Homo sapiens: one gene and its partners. The protein of the gene in region 1 interacts with the protein of each later gene in a pairwise test. Each region holds a gene or a part of one and is shown on either strand. Other genes may lie near its edges.

Evidence for each region. The genes of interacting proteins can lie anywhere in the genome.
Region 2: the proteins of GOLGA8F (region 1) and HDDC3 interact in binary tests that used the Homo sapiens proteins (3 or more experiments, as listed by UniProt).
Region 3: the proteins of GOLGA8F (region 1) and MRFAP1 interact in binary tests that used the Homo sapiens proteins (3 or more experiments, as listed by UniProt).

The regions. Positions count from the first base shown.
Region 1 is NC_000015.10:28,374,131-28,381,678, forward strand, and holds the start of GOLGA8F (golgin subfamily A member 8F), read left to right. Parts: upstream 1-4,533; 5' UTR 4,534-4,631; coding exon 4,632-4,679; intron 4,680-6,376; coding exon 6,377-6,496; intron 6,497-7,081; coding exon 7,082-7,141; intron 7,142-7,324; coding exon 7,325-7,405; intron 7,406-7,548.
Region 2 is NC_000015.10:90,929,550-90,936,955, forward strand, and holds HDDC3 (guanosine-3',5'-bis(diphosphate) 3'-pyrophosphohydrolase MESH1), read right to left. Parts: upstream 3,001-7,406; 5' UTR 2,992-3,000; coding exon 2,880-2,991; exon of another isoform or gene 2,837-2,879; intron 2,562-2,836; coding exon 2,506-2,561; intron 2,396-2,505; coding exon 2,155-2,395; intron 2,008-2,154; coding exon of another isoform or gene 1,994-2,007; exon of another isoform or gene 1,857-1,993; coding exon 1,726-1,856; 3' UTR 419-1,725; downstream 1-418. Other genes in the region: UNC45A (protein unc-45 homolog A), read left to right, coding at 5,776-5,826, 5,995-6,156, 6,397-6,433, 6,736-6,911. UniProt on the Homo sapiens protein: ppGpp hydrolyzing enzyme involved in starvation response.
Region 3 is NC_000004.12:6,636,016-6,643,229, reverse strand, and holds MRFAP1 (MORF4 family-associated protein 1), read right to left. Parts: upstream 2,546-7,214; 5' UTR 2,368-2,545; coding exon 1,984-2,367; 3' UTR 1,972-1,983; intron 1,501-1,971; 3' UTR 501-1,500; downstream 1-500.

The DNA.
Region 1 (7,548 bases):
CAAATCCCAATAGAATTTTTTTGTGGAACTCGAGAGGCTGATCCTAAAATTCATACAGTCACTTGAGGGGCCAAGAATAGTGTAACAGGGCTGGCGGGGCTGGTGGCTCACACCTGTAGTCCCAGTACTTGGGAAGTCAAGACTGGAGGATGGTTTGAACCCAGGAGTTCAAGACCAGCCTAGGCAACATAGCAAGATGTTGTCTCAAAATATTAAAAATAAATAAATAAATAAAAAGAAGGTTAAGTATGCACATTTTGTTGTGAATTTCAATTTTATAGTGATTTTTTTTTTTTTTTTGAGACAGGGTCTTGCTCTGTCACCCAGGCTGGAGTGCAGTGGTGCCATCTTGGTTCACTGCAACCTCTGCGTGGGCTCAAGCAATCCTCCCGCCTCACTCTCTGGAGTAGCTGGGACCACAGTTATGTGCCACCACACCTGACTAATTTTTATATTTTTTTTTTGTAGAGACGGGGTTTTTCCATGTTGCCCAGGTTGTTCTCAAACTCATCCACCTGCCTTGGCCTCCGTAAGTGAGATCACAGACATGGGCCACTGTGCCCGGTCTAGTGCGCTTTTTTTTTTTTTTTTTTTTTTAACCAAACAAACGATGAAGTCTCAGGAGTAAAAGTTGATACACAAGTAAATTTTATTGGTAATGTTTTTGTGTGGTCTTTAAGCAGAGGGAAAATTAGTCTGCATTATGGTGTATCCAGACTAAATAACTGATATTAAAATGAAATTATCCTTAGGATTTGCAATCTTAGAGAAAACTTTTTCATTTTTTTTGAGTTACAAATTATCTTCACTTACATTTGAGAACAGTGAGTCACAGAGGGATTAAGTATCTTACTCAAGATCTTCAAGTGTTTGGTTTGAACCCAATCTTTTCACTCTGCAGAACTCAGAGTCACTCTTATTTGGAAACTTTTTAACTGATGTGGATCCTCTAATATGGGCTTCCTATTATTCATTCCGTATTAGTCAGAAGTTTTGCAAGCAGGCAGAATTCATTTTGCCAATTACGGGATTTTCCCTCAGTTGCAGTCAAGGTTCATAAAACTATAACTATTTATCTTTAATTATAAATTTTGTTTTTGAGACAAAGTCTTGCTCTGTTGCTCAGACTGGGATCCAGTGGCACAGTAACAGCCCATTGCAGCTTTGAACTCCTGGGCTCAAGGGATCCTCCGCCTCAGCCTCCCAAGTATCTGGGACTACAAGTGCATGCCATCATCCCTGGCTAATTTTGTTAAAAAAAAAAAATTGTAGAGATAGGGTCTTGCTTCGTTGCCCAGGCTGGTCTCAAACTCCTGGCCTCAAGCAAGCCTTCAGCCTTGGTCTCCCAAAGGGCTGAGATTACAGGTGTCAGCCATTGCACCTGGCCAAAACTGTAACTATATATACACACACACATAACTACATATATATGTGTGTGTGTGTGTGTATGTATGTGTGTGTGTATATATATTTTTATATATAAATAGATATATCTGAAAGGCATCAAAAGAAAAAAGCTGTAACTTTTAGTCTTGATCTTGATAGTGACTTGATTAGGCTATCTGTTTAACATCAAAGATGCAAATTAATGCTTTCTTTGGGTGAGCATATTAAAAATGCAGAAAATATTGGAGTAGTTTTTTATGTTAAATAAATTGTATTCTGTGTATTTAAGGTATACAACATGATTTTATGGGATGCATATAGATGGTTAAAAAAAATTACTACAGTGAAGCAAATTAACGTATCCTTCAACTCAGATAGTTACCCGTTTTCTTTTTGTTTGGTGGCAAGAGGAGCTTAAAATCTCATTTAGCGTGAATCCCAAATACAGCACAATTTTATTACCTATATTTCTCGCGTTGTACATTATATTTCTAGGCTTGTTCATCCTACATATCTGCTACTGTGTAACCTCTGAGCTATGTCCACCCATTTTCTCTCTTGCCCCCCAAGTAATTTCCTAAAGTGTCTCATATAAAAAGGCAGTAGCTTTCAGCTTAAACTTTTTCTCTGTATATATTTAAGTCAATTTCTTTGAGGTATGTTTTTCTCTCCAGAATAGTTAGATGTAGGCATACCACTTTAATGTTGACACTAGTTCACCTAGAACTTATCTTCTGCAAATCTGTCTCTATGTCCATCTCTGTCTCCATCTTTGTCTCTGTCTTTATCTCTGTCTATCTATCTATCCATCCATCCATCCATCCATCTATCTCTCTATCCATCTATCTGTCTATCTAACTAAAGCAAATTCATGCCCTTCTCCTATTTATGGAATCGAGACCATAAACAGAGGTGAGGGAAAGAATTTGGCAGGAATTGCGATGTGTATTACCTGTGGCATAAGGAAACTTTACAGAACTAGGGTCAAAAGTATACTTTCTAGTTCTTTCCCATGGCTTTTCACTTTGATGTAGTCCTTATCAGGCAACTGAGGTTTTATATAAGTCCCCTGATTCTTAGAACATGAAGGTGTAGTATTCAAGTTTGGTCCCTTGAAACCACAATTTTTGTTAAAAAAAAATTAAGAAAATTGTATAATTTCCTCAGCAAATACATATTGATCATCTGTTATACAGCCATGAGAAGTGGTTCTGTTGAACACGTTTATTTTATCAGATCCCAATTCTAAACCAGGCATAGAATGGAAACCATGAAGGTAGGATGAAATAACTTCTGAATGTTTGAAAATAGTGTACTTAAAAATAAATATCAGGTGTTTTTGTTTTGTTTTTTGTTTTTTGTTTTTGAGACAGGGTCTCACTCTGTCACCCAGGCTGGAGTGTGGTGGTGCCATCTCACCTCATTGCAGCCTTGACCTCCCAGGCTCGGGTGATCTCCCACCTCAGCCTCCCAAGTAGCTGGGACTACAGGCACATGCCACCATGCCCAGCTAATTTTTTGTATTTTTTGTAGAGACAGGGTTTCACCATGTTGCCCAAGCTGGTCTAGAACTCCTGGGCTTAAGCGATCTTCCCACCTCAGCCTCCCAAAGTGCCAGGATTACAGGCATGAGCCACCATGCCTGGCTGAAAATACCAGGTTTTTAAGTATCAGCACTGCCTCTTCAATCTTTTCTATTACTATGTTGTGCTCAGTGGTATTTTTTATTGAATTAGAGCAGTGCTGTTCAATGGAACCTTCTTTGAGGATGGAAATCTTTTATGTCTCTGCTGTGTGGGTATGGTATTAGCTGGGTATGGGGCACCTGCCTATAGTCCCAGCTACTCAAGAGGCTGAGGTGGGAGGATCACTTGAGCCCAGGAGGCCGAGTCTGCAGGTTCGTACCACTGCAATTCAGCCTGTGTGACAGAATGAGACTCAGTCTCAGAATAAAATGAAATAAGGAAATAAAAATGTAATTGTTGAAATAAGAAACTAGTGGATGGATTAGACACGAGAAGAAAGAATTAATTGTTTAGGCGATTCTCTCCAAAAAGTAAGTCAGCATGTCACACAGAGAGACATGAGGATGGATGATAGGGCAGAAGTTGGTGGGCTTGGAGGGGAGAGGAAGATCAGAATGAGGTCCAAAATGTGTCTTAGTGAAATCCCAGGAGGAGATATTAAAATTATATTAGAAAGTGAAAGAAATAGAAGTTTTATTTATTTATTTATTTATTTATTTTGAGAAGGAGTCTCGCTCTGTAGCCCAGGCTCGAGTGCAGTGGCACGATCTGAGCTCACTGCAAGCTCCACCTCCTGGGTTCACGCCATTCTCCTGCCTCAGCTTCCCAAGTAGCTGGGACTACAGGCACCCACCACCACGCCTGGCTAATTTTTTGTATTTTTAGTAGAGATGTGGTTTCACCTTTTTAGTCAGGATGGTCTCAATCTCCTGACCTCATGATCCGCCAGCCTCAGGCTCCTAAAGTGCTGGAATTATACGCATAAGCCACTGCACCCGGCCCAAAAGCTTTGTGTTTTTACAAATATTACACATGTTTCTTGTTTAAGAAAAAAAGTCTTCACAATAACGTAGGAGAATAAGAGAAACATTTTTCCAAAAAAGAGAAGTCATTGTGATTATTTTATCTTATTGGAATGTTGGATAATATAGTCTGCTTCAGTAATCATCAAGCATGCTATGGATTTTCCATCTTCATAGGATCTGTATCTCGGTTAAGGTAATACTGGTAATTTTTGTACTCTATGAAAAATATAGGCCAAAATCATAGACCTTGCATAGAAGCTGGATCATGAAGACAGCTCTGGAGGAACACACAGGTACACACACACAGACACACATATATATAAAGTATACACATATATATTTTTTAAAAGCTTTTAAAGCAAAAGCCGGCCCTGCCCCTCTCCCAGAGTTGGCGGCCTCTCCCCTCTCTTAGAGTGGGTGGGGACAGTGGTTGCATGGGCAGCTTTCCTTGTGAGCCAAAGGTCCCTCTGGACACATGATGCCTGGCCACGCCCCCTTTCCCTTTCATCTTTCTCATTAACCAATGGGCTTGGAGCATTAAGGCCACGCCCCTATTCTGCCTTCTACTGCATCCCTGGTTACGCCTCCTCTGGCTCAGTCGCACAGCTACCTGGTAGGTGACTGGAGGTGTTGATCAGTGCTTGGTGGGATTTTGCTGATGTGGCCCCAAGCCCGCCTCCCTCCCCACCCTGCGATGGCAGAAGAAACTCGACAAAGTAAATTGGCAGCAGCCAAGAGAAAGGTAAAAACACACCAGGTCACGGACCCCCAACCCAGCCATAGATCCTCTCCAACGACAAGACTGCTGCCAGAGTCCATACCACTCCCGAGGTTCACCGGACTGGGACCCCCACACCGGTGCCTCTGGGCTACCCCCACCAAAGTTTTGTCAGTCAGCCCCACCCCTTCAGCAAGCAGCCCAGTCTCTGCCCTCACCAATCACCCCAGGGTGACTTTGGGCAGGTGAATCCTGGGGCTCCCCGCTCCTTTACTGGGCCCTCATCTCCTGCCACCCCAAGCTTGACCTCCCAGGGCTTTTTGGGCTCACATCTCCAAGGACCTGGGTCCCACAGCCCCAGACCCCACCCTCACCAGTCATCCCTGGGTGACTTTAGGCTGGTGAATCCTGGGGCTCCCTGCTGCTGACTCTTCCCTTCCCTCCTGCTGCCTCAAGGTGGACCTCCCTAGGCTGTGTGCACTGGTGTCTCCAAGGACCTGGGTCCCAGCTCTGTTTTTCCCTCCCCTATCATGGAGCGGTGACTCGGACATCATGCTGATGTGGTCCCTCCCCCTCACCAGGAAGAGTGGAATGTAGTGATGTCACGGTCCATCCAGTAACTGTCATTACTGCAAGACTGGCCTTTGATCTTATGACCCAGTCCCCTAAGCATTGCCACCCCATTTCTGGTTCCTCTTGTCACAGCACAAATTTCCAGCTGGAAGGGGAATGGAGATTGGGACCTAGGAGCAAGAGGTTTCAGGCTGCCTCACTCCCTTAGCATAAACATTGACAGCGGGAAAAGCCTACACTTCCCCTGTGAGCTCAAAACATTGACAGTACCTCTGGATGGCAACTGGAGAATGGGTTTGACTTGGTTTGGTTTTCTCCCAGGCTTCTACTTTCCAGAGAGATTTTAACAAATTTTTTGTGAGTTCTCCACCTCACATTCTAATTCTCCATGGTTCTGGGACCAGACTGCCCTTCAGCCAGTGGTCTGTGAAGTGAGATTTGCTCATCTTCTCTGGAATAGATCTTGGGAAACTGAACTTGACAGCTTGAATCTTCCTCATATTATGTAAACCTGGGGTACTTTGAGTGCCACAGGATACATATGGGACATCTTTCTGAAGCATCAGTTTCCATTGATTCTCTTGAGATCAAGAGAAAAAACATTAATGTACTTAGGGATGACAGTCACATAGGTTTCTAAGAGTATACCAGACTTCTCTCTGAAATGAGGCTTGGGTTGTCCTCTTTCTGATAAATTCCCAGATTTAACAGAAAGGCTGCCTTCTGCCATGAGGACACATTGATATAAGAGTTTGAGAGGTACTGGTGCACTTCTTCACACTAACAGACGTGTGAGGATGTATGACTAAACCACATGGCATACAGTTCCTGCCTACTTAATGTTTACTTTTCTACCTCTGCCTCTGGTTTTGGTCCCTGGCAGCTGCTGATTCTTGGTAAAACCCCAGAGTTTGGAGTCAGAAGACTGAGTTTCAAAGTTCGTCTGTCGCCTTTTTCTTTTCTTCTTTTTTTTTCTAGCCATGATATCAATCTCTTTGAGTCACTAAATGATTGTGACAACACCTTGTACAGTTGTTGGTATCATTAAATCAGATGGTGTATAAGAGTATTTTATAAAAACTGTAAAGGAGGATGTGGCTGCAGGGGCTGATAGTTCTCATGAGTATTACTGCTCTTGTTTCTGACAGTTAAAAGAATATTGGCAGAGAAACAGCCCTGGTGTTCCAGCAGGAGCCAAGAGGAACAGGAAAACAAATGGCAGCATCCATGAGACAGCCACTTCTGGTGGTTGCCACTCACCTGGAGATGTGAGTCTTGGCTGACTAGGTTCCTGGGGACAGGGGACCCAAGGGGCACTAGAGGGTAATTGTTAAGATTGTGGATGGACTGTTGGGTACCTGTGAAGAATTCTGGGTTTGAATCCTGCCTCTTTGTCTGCTAGGGATATGAATTAGGGCAAGTTGCTAGACCTCATCGGGCCTCTCTTTTCACATCTGTATAATAGAGGTGGTATTGTTTCACTTCCATTTGTGAAGTTTAAATGAGATTTGTTATTGTTGTTTTTATGTTAATCCCTAGTACATGGCCTGCTGTAAACACCCAGAACACCCAGGATATGGTCATTGCTGTTCGATTTTCCTCATCCCCAGTCTCAAGGGGAAGCCAGGACAATGAGAACAGTCACTTGGCACAGGAGTCACTGAAAGGGCCACAGGGTGCTGTGGTGGGGAGATAAGAACCATGAGAGAAGTTGGCACAAAGGAGTTATGGGACAAAGGGTCCAAGATAGGCAGAAAAGAAAATTGTGCCAGTTGATGGGGAAGAAAAGAAGTCAGAGGGCTTAGATACTGAGTGGGACAGAACATCTTCATGTGCACTCTCATCTCTTGTAGTCAGCAACAGGTATCCACGGGGAGAGCCCTACATCATCTGCTACCCTGAAGGATCTGGAGGTAAGAGGCTCTGGGCAGAGGTGCAGTGACCCTGCAGGCCAGCCCTCCAACCTCCTCCTCCAGGTGGGACGGGGTGCCCCTCTGCCAGCTGAGACAGTCCACACACACCCCAGCCCTAATGATTGCTCTCTCTACCTCTCCCCCCACTCCTCCTCCACCTCCTCCTCTCTGCATGCGCCTCAGAGCCCGTGCCAAGAACTAGCAGTAGTCCCAGACTCGAGGTCCGTAAAAGTCAGTCAACTGAAGAACACCATCAAATCTTTGGTAAGAGTCCACTGGGGTCCCCTGATTCCACGCTGCCAATCCTGGGCTCTAGTTTCCCCTTGGGGCCCTGAAGAAAGGGGACGGCGGCCCCTGGTGCCAAGGGCGAATAGGGAGCTGGGGCGCCCAGGCCTCACCTGGAGGGA
Region 2 (7,406 bases), about 63 Mb from region 1:
TGAAACTCCGTCTCAAAAAAAAAAGCTAAAACGAAAGCTCCTAGAAGAAAACAGGAAAAGCTTCATGGCATTAGATTTGGCAACGATTTCTTAGATATGACACTAAAAACACAGGCAACAAAATATATAAAGTGGACTACAACAAAGTCATCTTTTCTTAAAAAAATCTCGTTATCTTACTCCCGCAAAACTATTTAAAAAAATTAAGTTCAAAGTTCTCCAAAATGTACCATACCCTGGGGATTACTCTGAACTTTGTTCATTTGTTTTCTTTTAATTCGGCTTTTTTGGTTGCCTTTCACCTACTTTTTCGCAGAGCCCTCCGCTGGGGCCTTCACTTGGGCAAACAACTATCGTAGTCGAACAGCTTTGACCTAACAATTTCCTCGTACCCAAGATGATCGCTTTTCCAGACAACTTAATAAACTTTGGCTTTAATGGATGACTGGATGCAGAATAAAATACATAAAAATAAACCTCAGCTGCTCAGCAACGACTGAAAAACCACCACCGGGCAATCCCTCCCCATGGCCACCGAGCAAAGTTCCACCGCCTCCCCTACGCCGACCGCCGGGCTCCCGGGGTCGGACAGCCCCGGGCCACTTCCGGGCCTTCCCGGAAGTCCCTGTCACTTAACAACCGAAGTAACCCGCAATGCGGAAGGGCGAGGGGATTGCGAGTCACCGAGTTTCCCGCGCGGCTTGAGGTACTGGGGAACCGGAATCCCCCACCGGCCCAATCATGTTGCTGCTGGGGTCTCTCCGGTGCCCAGCAGTGGTTGTCAGTAAGCGGGCGGCACTCCCTTCCGATACGTCTTTTCTTTTTTCATTTTTGAGACGGAGTCTCGCTGTGTCACCCAAGCTGGAGTGCAGTGGCGCGATCTCGGCTCAGTACAAACTCCGCCTCCCGGGTTCAAGCGAGTCTCCTGCCTCAGCCTCCTGAGTAGCTGGGATTACAGGCGCGAGCCACTGCGCCCGGCTAATTTTTTTTTGTATTTTTAGTAGAGACGGGGCCTCGCCATGCTGGCCAGGCTGGTCTTGAACTCCTGACCTCAAGTGATCCGCCCGCCTCGGTCTCCCAGAGTGCTGGGATTACAGGCGAGAGACACCGCGCCTGGCCCCCTTCCAACTTTCTTAACGGGAAAGGCTGCTACCATTTCTTGAGCACCTATGTGTCAGGCTCCATCAGGCACGTCACAGTCTAACCTGATAATTACACAACCCATGTCACTGACAAGGAAGCCAGGTTCGGAGGGGTTGAGGCCCGCAACCTGAGGGAGGTGACTCCGGGACACACAATTAGTCCTGCTTTGCTGAAGGAAAGATATGCAGCCCACCAGTCGGAGGCTGGAGAAGGAGCAGCAGCAGCTTAAACCTTAACCCAGAGTTATTTTTATTTTCCAGAACGTGTTAGGAACTAGTACTTAAATAATCTCAAGTCCCTGAGGGGCCAGAGATCCCACCATGCAAAATAGCAAACAGACCCAAGACTTGGGGAGAGGCGGTGAGTGCATCAGAAATGGATGGGTACATCTGATTCCCACCACGCGGGGCTCAGCTTAGTTAGCAGGAGACCTTCAGACTGAGAAAAAATGCAAGTCTTTTTTTGGCCTCTAATATCTGGGAAGGATGGAGGGAGCTCAGGAGACACAGAAAAGATGGCGTATGAATCCTGTCCGGCCTGAACGAGGCTGGAGTTGTGCCTCTGGATAGCTTCAAGCACTGATCAGATTGTCAGCCCCCGCTGCTTGAACAGATGCTTTAGAGCCTCTTCCAGTTGCCGGTTTGTTCCCTGAAGCCCCTTCACCACCTGCGCTGCCCACTCGAAGTATTCCTGGACTCGATGTTCTGACCATCCTGCATAAGAGTCGACAGAAACTTGCTAGCGTGATGTCAAGGAAAGCACTGCCTTTTCCCCACTTCCTGGCAAGCTTGGTTCAAGGCCATGAGTTCCTGATGGAATGAGCTGTCCTGAAAACTTCCCCTTGGCCCAGCTATTGTATTTTTACTGTATGAAAGAAGATCAAAGAGTGGTCCAGTAGGATTAATTTGGGAATTAAGAATGCCCAGGGTTTTTCAGGGGAACTGACCAACATGTGTCTTCAGAAGGCGGCATCCCCCTCCCTTTTCCCTTACAGCCCATACGAAAGCGTACCCTCTGGGGTGCAGCGATTCAGGTCCCTCAGATTGTACAGCTTGTCTGCCAGCTTCACCAGTTTGGCCCCGGGGCTACTGTGGGGCGCTTGCTCCACCTGCAGCCTCTTTCTCTCCAGCTTGGGCAGAGTCTTGTCATCTGTTACCTCCTCCACCAGGCGCCGCACTTGTGCCCCAAAGTGTAGCTCCACCTCATCCAGGGTGGTGTCTGTGTCCTCCACCGTGTCATGGAGCAGGGCCGCCTGGGGACAAGTTCCCACTCAGCCCTGAGATGTCAGCCAAGGGTTGCCCATTGCTGAATGGGGCCCCTAATCCCCATCCCAGGCTCCTGGCAGAGAAGGGGGAAAGTTACCTGTAACACCACAATGTCAGTGATTCCCGCCTCGTGGGTCAGGATCCGTGCCACACCTGACGGGGAGGGGCAAAGCAGGAAGTCAGGTCGGAGGTAGTCCCAAGGCGGTGTGTTGTGGGTTTTGGAGAGCCAGATGTGGCCCCTTGTGGACTCTGACTAGCTGGGTGACCTTGGTCAAGTACCTTACCCTCTGGGAGCCAACCGACAAAGGGAACGATCATGCCTACCGTTCCAATTGTTATGAGGCTTAAACGGTATATCGCACTAAGCTTGGGACAAAACAGGTGCTCAATGAGGTGCACGCCCCCCACGTTTCCTTCCCAGTCCCCACCACCCAGGTGCCGCAGCCGGCGCTCCGCGGCCGACGCGCCCACCGATGGGGTGGTTGATGTAGGGGGTCCCCTCGGGGTCCTTCCGCCGCTGCTGCCGGTGCTTGCGAGCCGCGAAGTCGGCAGCCTCCAGCAGCTGCGCCGCCTCAGAGCCCATCGCGCGGATGGGGCCGACGACTGCGGCCGCAGGGGCAGGGACGGAACGTTTACAGCGCCCCCTGGCGCCGGGGAGGCCCGGGGATCGTGGAGGCTAATTCAGCGGGCCGAGTTGGGCCTGCCCCAGATGAATTCCTCTGGAGCTGACCGGCCCGCGCAGAGAGCAAGTGATGTGGACAGCTGCCTTCAGCATCGCAGCCCCCAGCTCAGTGTGCTCTGTTGGGGGTGCAAGAAGAACATAAGCCTGGCTCTTTGGGAGCCCACAGTCTGTGGAAAAGAGGAAGACAGACAAGAAATAAGGCAGTGGCCTCACAGTGCTCTGAATCCAGGGTGGCCAAGGCTCAGGGGACTATGGGAGCGGGAAGAAAGAACAATCCCCACACCCTCAGAGTCAGAGACAGCTTCTCCCAGAAGCTCCCCCCAAGAACCATCTTCAACCTGTAAAAGCTCTGAAAATTCTCCAAGTGTTCTAAAAATAGTTCTCCCTGTAGGGATGGGCCAGGTTCTGTGGGCAGGGGAGTCTACCTTTGGACCCTCCAGGAGACCCTAGGGCCTGACCTGAAAAATCAGAGCCTTCCCTGGGAGCCCTGCCTAATTGCTTCAGACTTAGGCTCCCAGGTAGCTGTGACGTTTCTGCAGGAACTGCCTTTGTTTGTCCTCAGTGTTGCAGATGAAATTTGCCTTGTCTTCTTATGCTATGAGAGCTCCTATTTCAGTCTCTAGGCATCTTCTGTGGGCCCCTGGGGTGATGAGTGTTGTCACTGCTGTCCTGGGAGCATGATGTTGTCAGGCCTGGGTAGGCACTGGAATAACACTTAATTCTGCTGGCTGGTGGCCTTCTGGAGAAATTCCCTGCCTTAGGGGCAGCTGAGGGGTAAGAGAGACCTGGTGATCCCCATAGAACTTCTCTGTGAGAGGGGGTTCCCTATTAGCTAAGTATACTCTAATCAGACATGTAGCTTTTGTGTTCTGGCTGGTAGCTGGGGCAGATAAGGCTCAGGGGAAAGGCTAATGAAAGGAGTCACCCTTGGTTTTCAGCTAGTCTTGGTGGTTGCCACGTAGCAGAGGTTAGGGAGGGAAGCCCCACATGCTGGAACTGAGGTCTCTGGGACCTGAAATAGGAGGGTCAGAATTCCCAGAGCTTCCATGGCAGCCTGGAAGTTGGAGAATGGGTAGAAACATATTTGGCTGTAAATGCTTGTTTGTTCTTCATACTAATGGCTCAGCTGCTCTCTCATCCCTCATTCTGTCCTCTAGTCCTTTGAGCCTTCTCTCCTTCAGCAGTTTGGCAATGCAGGCCCCACGTTTTCCAACAGGAGACAGAAACCCAGTCCCTGTCATCTCTCTCTAAAAGCCTGTGATAGAGAAGCTTCAGGCTCGTATTAATGGTGCCCAAGGGCCTTGGGGCTTTGACTTTTATTTCCTTATTGTCTGCAGTCACGGCCTAGAAAGAGAGATGTTGGGGTTCCCAGGACCAGGACAGAGGTGGTAGTGAACTCTCATGGGCATCCAGAGAAGGTCAGGCCCCTTGCTGACAGGCCTATCTGTGGGGCTACTGCTGCTCTTCAGCTGGGTGACCCTTGTCCAGCCAACCTCTCTCTCAGGTACAGCACTTACCCCTGTGGCCCACCTGCCTCTGGTGCTATGGGCTATTCCTGGGAACTGGAACTGATGGGGATGGGTGGAAGGGCATCTTTTCTTCTGGTAGGGGCTGATCTCTTTTACTCTCCAGTAGGGGTGGAGTGAGCTGTGGAAAGGCCCCTCCTGCTTGTCTCTAGCACCCCCACCTCTCTCTTCAGCTCTGGTCCACCACCCTCACTTGTGCCAGACCACCCGGGATGTCCATGGCCGTCACTACCCTGGTTTCTTTTGCCCTCGTCTGTCTGATTCTCCAGAGGAAGCCTACTGCTGCCACCTGCAGGCTGCAGGGGGCTCCTGCTGCACCCGGGCTGAATTTGAGGCCCTGTACCAAGTCAATCTGTCCGCTCTTCCGCCCCCGCCCATCCTCAGGTGAGATCTCCAACCCCAGAGCCACTGGAACATCGACAGGGTGTTCCAGTATCTGGGGCTCTGTTCCTAAATTATGGGGTGGTAGGCTTGTAACTTACAGACTAGTGAAGGGACAGACCGCAACAGAAAATCATGTAGATCATGATTACAATTACAAAGGAGAAGTTCAGGGGGCTGTGCAAGCTGGTAATGGGGAGCCATCCTGAATCTGCCCATGGGTGGCTCTAGGATGAGCTCCTAAATTCGTATGCAAATGTGTGTATGTAAGACGACACTTATTTGGGGAGGGAGTCCTGAGCTTTCTCCGGACTCCCAGGGATTCTGTACCCCCCACAGAGCGCAGCAGCGAGAGCGCGGTCGGGGCCGGGATCCAGATACTTTTTCTCTCCCGCAGGGGCCCAGGCCCGCTCCTAGTGCTGGGCCTCTACAACCTACTGGTTGTGACCCTGATGACCGTAGACCTCGTGCACTTCTGCTGCGGTCGGGGCCGGAGTCTGGGCTGGAGCCACCGCAGGCCTCCCTCTGGGTCCTCCGCCGCGAGCTCCCTGCAGGTCTCTGCGGGGACAGCTTAGGTGCGCCCGGAGCTTGCCTGCACCTGCGATCCAGAGCCAAGCGCCCCGCCCCTGCCCGGGCGCGCTCCCTCCTTAGCCCTGCCCCTCTCTGACCCCACCTCCGACGCAAGAGTGGGGCGGGGCAGCTGCCGGTGGCGTCCCGAACCCAGACTCGCCCCGCCCCAGAGACTGCGCCTGCGCGGGCACGAGACAACCTCTCCGCGATGACTGTGAGTGGTCCAGGGACCCCCGAGCCCCGGCCGGCCACCCCCGGGGTGCGTACCCAACCCCCGCGCCATCACCCCTTCGCACCCGCCCTGACCATCCCTGGCCTCCTTCTCCCCATCCATGAGGCTCGCCCCGATCCCTCCTCTCCTCTCCCCTTAGCTCCCGGGCTCTGCCCCGAACCCCCTCCGACGTTTCCGCCCCCTTTCTCTCTACAGGCCAGCTCAGTGGAGCAGCTGCGGAAGGAGGGCAATGAGCTGTTCAAATGTGGAGACTACGGGGGCGCCCTGGCGGCCTACACTCAGGCCCTGGGTCTGGACGCGACGCCCCAGGACCAGGCCGTTCTGCACCGGAACCGGGCCGCCTGCCACCTCAAGCTGGTGAGGGAGCCTGGCGCTCTTCCCCTCGCCCGCCCGGGCCCCGGTTCGCCCATCTAAGCTGATGCTTGGGCCCCAGCTGGACATTCACGCTCCCAGGCCATCCCCGCTTGCCAGATGTTTTTTGCACCTCAGGGTGGTGGGGGATCGGGTGACCTTGGAGAGCGAGAGTACCCCTGCTGCCTGGTTAGTGCCCCGAGAGGGAGATGACCATTCCTTCAGGCTCCTGTCTTTCTCTTACAGGAAGATTACGACAAAGCAGAAACAGAGGCATCCAAAGGTAGGGGAATGGTGGGCCCTGGTGTGGAGCTGTAGGGCTTCTGTGGTGGGCAAGGACTCTGGGACCGCTGCACCGTCACATTCTCCTCCTTTGGCCCCAGAGACACATCTGCCTTCTTTCTTTCCCACTGCCTCGGGCCTTTCCTTTTCTGCAGCTACCCTCACCTTTTCTGAGGCTGAAGCACCGAGCCCCACATTCGTCCCCCCCACCTTCTTCTGGCCTTTCCTCGAGATCTTTCCCTACTGCTCTTGCCTGGAGACAGTGGCCTCATGGGTGCTGACAGCGCTCCTGTTTGTGCTCAGCCATTGAAAAGGATGGTGGGGATGTCAAAGCACTCTACCGGCGGAGCCAAGCCCTAGAGAAGCTGGGCCGCCTGGACCAGGCTGTCCTTGACCTGCAGAGATGTGTGAGCTTGGAGCCCAAGAACAAAGTTTTCCAGGAGGCCTTGCGGAACATCGGGGGCCAGATTCAGGAGAAGGTATGTGAGTGACCCAGAGAGGTGGAAGCATTGACTGGTGGTGAAGGGGTCTGGGCCAGGGGTGTAGACACAGTTCTCCAGACGAGATCCCGGTGGCAAGTGAACCTTGCCTGTGGCCAGGGAAAAGCAAATTAAGATGACAGCACATTACTGTTGATTTGGAGGTCTGTCTGGCAGATATTTAAAAGTTTGTACACTTTTCGAGAAGGAGAGAGGCAGACACATCAGTGGTGAGGCTGGGGGCCAAGGGCTCTCTGATGACTGCTGGAGGGGTATAAATTGGTACAGCTCTTTTCGAGAGTACTTTAGCATATCTATTCAATTTCAAATGAGCGTATCTTGTGATCCCATATGTTTACTTCTTGCTGTTTCTCTCAGAGAAACCTTGTCCACGTGCACAAGTAGACATGTGTATGTTTATTTCAGCCTTTTTTGTAGTAAGAAAAACTTGGAACTTGCCTGAATGCCCAGCCATAGAGGAATGGCTGAATAAAT
Region 3 (7,214 bases), on another chromosome or scaffold:
ACCCAGGGAAAAGGGCATGACTTTGGCTAACGCAGCTCTCCTCTGAAAAGGCACTGCCCAGAGGGCTAACCAGCTGAAGGGTGTTTGTCAGCAACACTTCTAGCAGCTGAGGCAGAAAGGCTTCAATCTGGAAGGAGGGTGGGGTATCACATCTCCTCTATGTCATCCCTCACCCTGCAACTGTAATCGCTATATTCCCAGTGCAAGGCCTAGAAAACAATGTTCCAATTGGAAAGACTGAAGGTGCTTTGGCTCTCTGAAGGCAGAGGCCTGGACCACAGGATTACATGTGGTTTCTTCCCACACTAAGAACCAAGTGTGTTTCTTCCTCACCCGGTTCCCAACAGCAGAGAGAGAAAGCTTCCCTTTGATTAGAGACTAAGAGCCTCAGAAACCGTTAAGATGTTCACCCTCCATTTGACAGTGAGAACCATCTGGGAGACAGCAGATTTCATTCTTAAAGGACTAACATTTCTCAATAACCTTTTAGGTCTTTCGTCTTTTCAAGCAAATGAATACTTTTATTAACATGGTAAGTTTTTGTTTGTTTTAACATGGTAGGGTTCTGACCTCAAATATTTGTTAGGTCTGCTACTCAAATGAACTTACAGCTGGACAACGTATGAACCTTGAAGATGCCTCTTCTAGTCCAGTTTAGGGTCCAATGCAGACAGTTCCATACTGTCATCCCCAAGCCCCTCAAGGGCCTTTGCCAATCTTTCATTTTATGCCAAGTCCTCTAAAACGCATCAGGGTATTACATCAACTTGTACAGAATATCAAGATCTTATCTTCTATTTTAGGTTCCATGTCAAATAAAGCTGAGTTAGGTTGTCCAAACAAACTCACCAGACAGGTTACATAAGATAGTGTACCACAACAAATTTAAATTTTGAACAAAACACATCTCTCCTCCTTTGGTCTCACACAGAAATTAAAGTCTCCAAATACAGACAATACTATCCATTCTCCAGCTCTTCTCCAGATTCACGAGTCCCAGCCAGGTCGGCCCATCCACACTCCCCGTTGAAGTCTGGTCCTTTCTTCAGTAGTTGCTGCATGGAGTCGTCTTCCAGAATTAATGCAGCTCCTTCAGCACCTCCAGAGCTGGAGAACTCCAACTGTGAGTCTCATGTGTCACACACAGACCCAAAGTTCCAGGGAGCTATCAGGTCACACAAGAAATAGCAAAGCACCTCAAAAATTTAGAAATAACCACCAAAGCCCGGGAACAAATGTGACTGCTGCAAGAGCTTACAATCTAGGCCCTAATTCCTGTATGTGAGAGCATTTTCAAACAAAATTACTTCCCAAACAAAAACACGTTAACAATCGAAACTCATATTGAGGTCATCAACCACAGACCATAGCAGAAAACGTAGTGTTAAGTGAGACAGAGCATAGACAGGAAAAAAGAGAAAACAAAAGGCTCTCTGGTTTCGGCTTCTCCAGGGTGTCAGCCAATCTCCACCAGTTGACCAGAATCCATTGGCTGGAAACCTAAAGCACAATGGGAAGAAATTCATCATCGAGAGGTTAATCCCAGGCACAACGACCCCCAAACCCTCACGAACGCCACTGTGCAGGACGCCACCTCTTCTGGCCACCACCTGACTCACTCCAGTCTCTAGCAACGTTGACTTGTCCAACGTCTTCCCCGAAAATCCTCTATTTCCACCCCCGCTTGCTGGACGGCCCGGGACCTTGTCCGTTTCTGTTTCCTTGGCGACTCTGAGATTTATGACCCTTCCACTGAACACGCATCACGCCCAAACCCGGCCACTCTGATTATCCCACGCCGCCACCGTCAAAAAACAAAACACGAAGACGGGGCCCAGATCGGCCCTGACCCGAGCACGCCTTTATTCTCCCGCCCCACCCCCGATTCCGGTGCATCTCGATGAAATCATCGCTCTCGAAGAGCGGCCAAGCTGGGGCCGCTCCTCGGCCTGGCGCGGGTGCCCGACTTACCGCCGACCGCGCTCACGACGACTCGCTCTTCTCTATCCGCCGGACCAGCTCCACCAGCATCTCTGCCATCTTCGCAATCTCCTTGGCCTTCTCCTCGGCCTTCTCGCACCTCTTGGCCGCCCGGCCCTCGGCCGCGTCGCCCGGGTTCTGGAGGTGGTTGAGGGCGCTCTCCTCCGAGGCCTCCACCTGCGTTTTGATCTGGATGAGCATATTGTCCATCTCCCACAGCTTGCTCCGGTTCCGCAGGTACGCCCGCCCGTGCTCGCGCGTCAGCGACGCGATGTCCTCGCGCATCTCGTTGATGACCGGGAGCAGAAACTGCTCGAAATCCTCCTCGGGCTCCAGCACCTCCACTTCCTCCGGTTCCGCCAGCTCGACGATGTCCAGGGGCCGCATCTCTTCCCACTGCCTCGGAACCGCAATAGCGATGTCTGTTGGAGAGAGAAAACCGACACTCGCTATGCTTAGCAATAGAGAGCCCGAATATTCCTGAAAACTTTTACCCTTTTTCAACTTTTCTTCTCAGAGAAGCCACGGACAAGCGACTTACGCGCAGAGTAACGGCGAACAAAATGGAGTCCCGGCCGTCAACCAGCGCTCTGCGCGTTGCGGCCCCTTTCACGACACAGCCGGGCCTCTTTACGGTCAGGGGGGCGAGCTGCGGGCGCGCGCACGTCTAGAAAGAGAGGCACCGGCGGCGGCGTCGCGGCCGCACGGACGCGCACGCAGGCACGCGCAGGTACGGGACCGCACGCTCTCGCTCGTTCCTGCTTTCCCGTTACCTCTGTGCGTCACCCCTGTTTTACCCTGTGTTTGGAGGGTGGCCTCTTCTGGGTGTTTCCCTCCGATAGGGCTTCTTGAGCACGCGAGTTTACATTTTTTAAAAAGGCCTCCCGCACTTCCCAGGCGCGGTGGCTCACGCCTGTAATCTCAGCACGTTGGGAGGCGAGGTGGGTGGATGGCTTGAGGTCAGGAATTCGAGACCAGCCTGGCCGACATGGCGAGACCCCGTCTCTACCAAAAATACAAAAATTAGCCGGGCGTCGTGTTGCACGCGTGTAACCCCAGCTGCTTGGGAGGCTGAGACAATCGTTTGAAAACGGGAGGCGGAGGTTGCAGTGAGCCCATATCGCGCCACTGCTCTCCAGCCTGTGCATCAGAGTGAGACTCCGTCGCAAAATAAATAAATAAAATATAAATGAAAATTAAAAAGGGCCTTCCACACTAGAAGAGGAGGATCCTACGTGATAATGCAGCTACCCCAGGTGGACGCTTAAAGCCCCTTCCTTTCACGCAGGGGGACCTGAGTCCCCTCAGCCGTTTTATTTACTTTTTTTTTTTTTTTTTTTGGAGACAGAGTCTGGCTCTATCGCCCAGGCTGGAGTGCAGTGGCACGATCTCGGCTCACTGCAAACTCCACCTCCGGGGTTCACACCATTCTCCTGCCTCAGCCTCGCGAGTAGCTGGGACTACAGGCGCCTGCCACCGCACCCGGCTAATTTTTTGTATTTTTAGTAGAGACGGGGTTTCACCGTGTTAGCCAGGATGGTCTCGATCTCCTGACCTCGTGATCCATCCACCTCGGCCTCCCAAAGTGCTGGGATTACAGGCGTAAGCCACCGTGCCGGGCCTTATTTACTTATTATTATTTAAAAAGTTTTTTTTTTTTATTGAGGCAGGGTCTCGGTCTGTCGCCCAGGCTGGAGTCCAGTGGTGGGATCATGGCTCACTGCAGCCTTGATCTTCTGGCCTCAAGTGATCCTTCCACTTCGGGCCTCCCAAAGTGCAGAGATTACAGGCATGAGCCGTGCGCCTGGCCCTTTCTGCCTTTTTAAAGAGTAGTTTTCCTTCTTCCTTGGATGACAGTCAGAAGGGTCTGGGTGTCTTTTCACCAAACCGGCCTCCCCACACCCCAAGGTGGAGCCTGGCTGCTCCGTCCTGAGGCCCCAGCAGACCCATGTTCAGTGTGTGGTGCAAGGCGCTGTCCAGAGCCTCTGAGCCCTTCCACTGGATCCTAGGCTCTTTGGGGTCTTAGCTCTGTGGCCTTAATGCCCTAACGCCCTGGGCAGAGCTTGGCGCATATTGGTAAATTTGCCTTAACATCCACTCAACACAGAATGAGGAGAGATACGTTAATTTCCTAGCTTGTTGTCCCATTCCCAAACATCAATAAACTTTTCAGAAATCCAGCTTACATAAATCCCATGGATTTGGCTTCCATTTTCAAGGTAAAGGGACACATCACAGTTTTGACTACAGCAGAATTAAGGATTCAGAGAAACGTAAGTATATGTTTTGTTTTGACTTTTCTCAGGTTCTTAATATTTTGGTTGCTCTTGTAAAAACCCAACTTTGGGGCTTGTGTGAAAGGAAAATAAATCTTGGGACCCCATAATCACTAAACCAAAGGGGACAGTCAAGCTGGGAACTGCATCAGGCAAACCTGCCTCCCATTCTATTCCTAAAAAAGATAGCTACTAAGATTAAAAAGCTACCTACCTCCCTCACAAGGAAATTCCTTGTGGACAAATGACAGAACTCGGAGCCACCCATCTGCTCACTGAGATAGATGCATCTCTGACTGCCTCCTTTGGAAAGGCCAATCAGAAACTCAAAAGAATGCAACTGTTTGTCTCTTATCTACCTATTAACTGAAAGCCCCTGCCCTGCTTCAAGTTGTCTGGCCTGTCTGGACCAAACCAATGTACATCTTACATATATTGATTGATGTCCCATGTCTCCCTAAAATGTATAAAACTAAGCTGTACCCCAACCACCTTGGGCACATGTCATCAGGACCTCCTGAGGCCATGTCATGGGTGTGTGTCCTTAACCTTGGCAAAATAAACTTTCTTTTTTTTTTTCACATTTCTTTCATTTTTTTTATTATTATTATACTTTAAGTTTTAGGGTACATGTGCACAATGTGCTGGTTAGTTACATATGTATACATGTGCCATTCTGGTGTGCTACACCCATTAACTCGTCATTTAGCATTAGGTATATCTCCTAATGCTATGCCTCCCCCCTCCCCCCACCCCACAACAGTCCCCAGAGTGTGATGTTCCCCTTCCCGTGTCCATGTGTTCTCATTTTCAATTCCCATCTATGAGTGAGAACATGCGGTGTTTAGTTTTTTGTCCTTGCGATAGTTTACTGAGAATGATGATTTCCAATTTCATCCATGTCCCTACAAAGGACATGAACTCATCATTTTTTATGGCTGCATAGTATTCCATGGTGTATATGTGCCACATTTTCTTAATCCTGTCTATCATTGTTGGACATTTGGGTTGGTTCCAAGTCTTTGCTATTGTGAATAGTGCCGCAATAAACATACGTGTGCATGTGTCTTTATAGCAGCATGATTTATAGTCCTTTGGGTATATACCCAGTAATGGGATGGCTGGGTGAAATGGTATTTCTAGTTCTAGATCCCTGAGGAATCGCCACACTGACTTTCACAATGGTTGAACTAGTTTACAGTCCCACCAACAGTGTAAAAGTGTTCCTATTTCTCCACATCCTCTCCAGCACCTGTTGTTTCCTGACTTTTTAATGATTGCCATTCTAGCTGGTGTGAGATGGTATCTCATTGTGGTTTTGATTTGCATTTCTCTGATGGCCAGTGATGGTGAGCATTTTTTCATGTGTCTTTTGGCTGCATAAATGTCTTCTTTTGAGAAGTGTCTGTTCATATCCTTCTCCCACTTTTTGATGGGGTTGTTTGTTTTTTTCTCATAAATGTGTTTGAGTTCATTGTAGATTCTGGATATTAGCCCTTTGTCAGATGAGTAGGTTGCGAAAATTTTCTCCCATTTTGTAGGTTGCCTGTTCACTCTGATGGTAGTTTCTTTTGCTGTGCAGAAGCTCTTTAGTTTAATTAGATCCCATTTGTCAATTTTGGCTTTAGTTGCCATTGCTTTTGGTGTTTTAGACATGAAGTCCTTGCCCATGCCTATGTCCTGAATGGTAATGCCTAGGTTTTCTTCTAGGGTTTTTATGGTTTTAGGTCTAACGTTTAAGTCTTTAATCCATCTTGAATTAATTTTTGTGTAAGGTGTAAGGAAGGGATCCAGTTTCAGCTTTCTCCATATGGCTAGCCAGTTTTCCCAGCACCATTTATTAAATAGGGAATCCTTTCCCCATTGCTTGTTTTTCTCAGGTTTGTCAAAGATCAGATAGTTGTAGATGTGCGGCGTTATTTTTGAGGGCTCTGTTCTGTTCCATTGATCTATATCTCTGTTTTGGTACCAGTACCATGCTGTTTTGGTTACTGTAGCCTTGTAGTATAGTTTGAAGTCAGGTAGCGTGATGCCTCCAGCTTTGTTCTTTTGGCTTAGGATTGACTTGGCAATGCGGGCTCTTTTTTGGTTCCATATGAACTTTAAAGTAGTTTTTTTCCAATTCTGTGAAGAAAGTCATTGGTAGCTTGATGGGGATGGCATTGAATGTATAAATTACCTTGGGCAGTATGGCCATTTTCACGATATTGATTCTTCCTACCCATGAGCATGGAATGTTCTTCCATTTGTTTGTATCCTCTTTTGTTTCATTGAGCAGTGGTTTGTAGTTCTCCTTGAAGAGGTCCTTCACGTCCCTTGTAAGTTGGATTCCTAAGTATTTTATTCTCTTTGAAGCAATTGTGAATGGGAGTTCACTCATGATTTGGCTCTCCGTTTGTCTGTTATCGGTGTATAAGAATGCTTGTGATTTTTGTACATTGATTTTGTATCTTGAGACTTTGCTGAAGTTGCTTATCAGCTTAAGGAGATTTTGGGCTGAGACAATGGGGTTTTCTGGATATACAATCATGTCATCTGCAAACAGGGACAATTTGACTTCCTCTTTTCCTAATTGAATACCCTTTATTTCCTTCTCCTGCCTAATTGCCCTGGCCAGAACTTCCAACACTATGTTGAATAGGAGTGGTGAGAGAGGGCATCCCTGTCTTGTGCCAGTTTTCAAAGGGAATGCTTCCAGTTTTTGCCCATTCATTATGATATTGGCTGTGGGTTTGTCATAGATAGCTCTTATTATTTTGAGATACGTCCCATCAATACCGAATTTATTGCGAGTTTTAGCATGAAGGGTTGTTGAACTTTGTCAAAGGCCTTTTCTGCATCTATTGAGATAATCATGTGGTTTTTGTCTTTAGTTCTGTTTATATGCTGGATTACATTTATTGATTTGCGTATAATAAACTTTCTTAATTGACTGATGCATGTCTTAGATATTTGGGG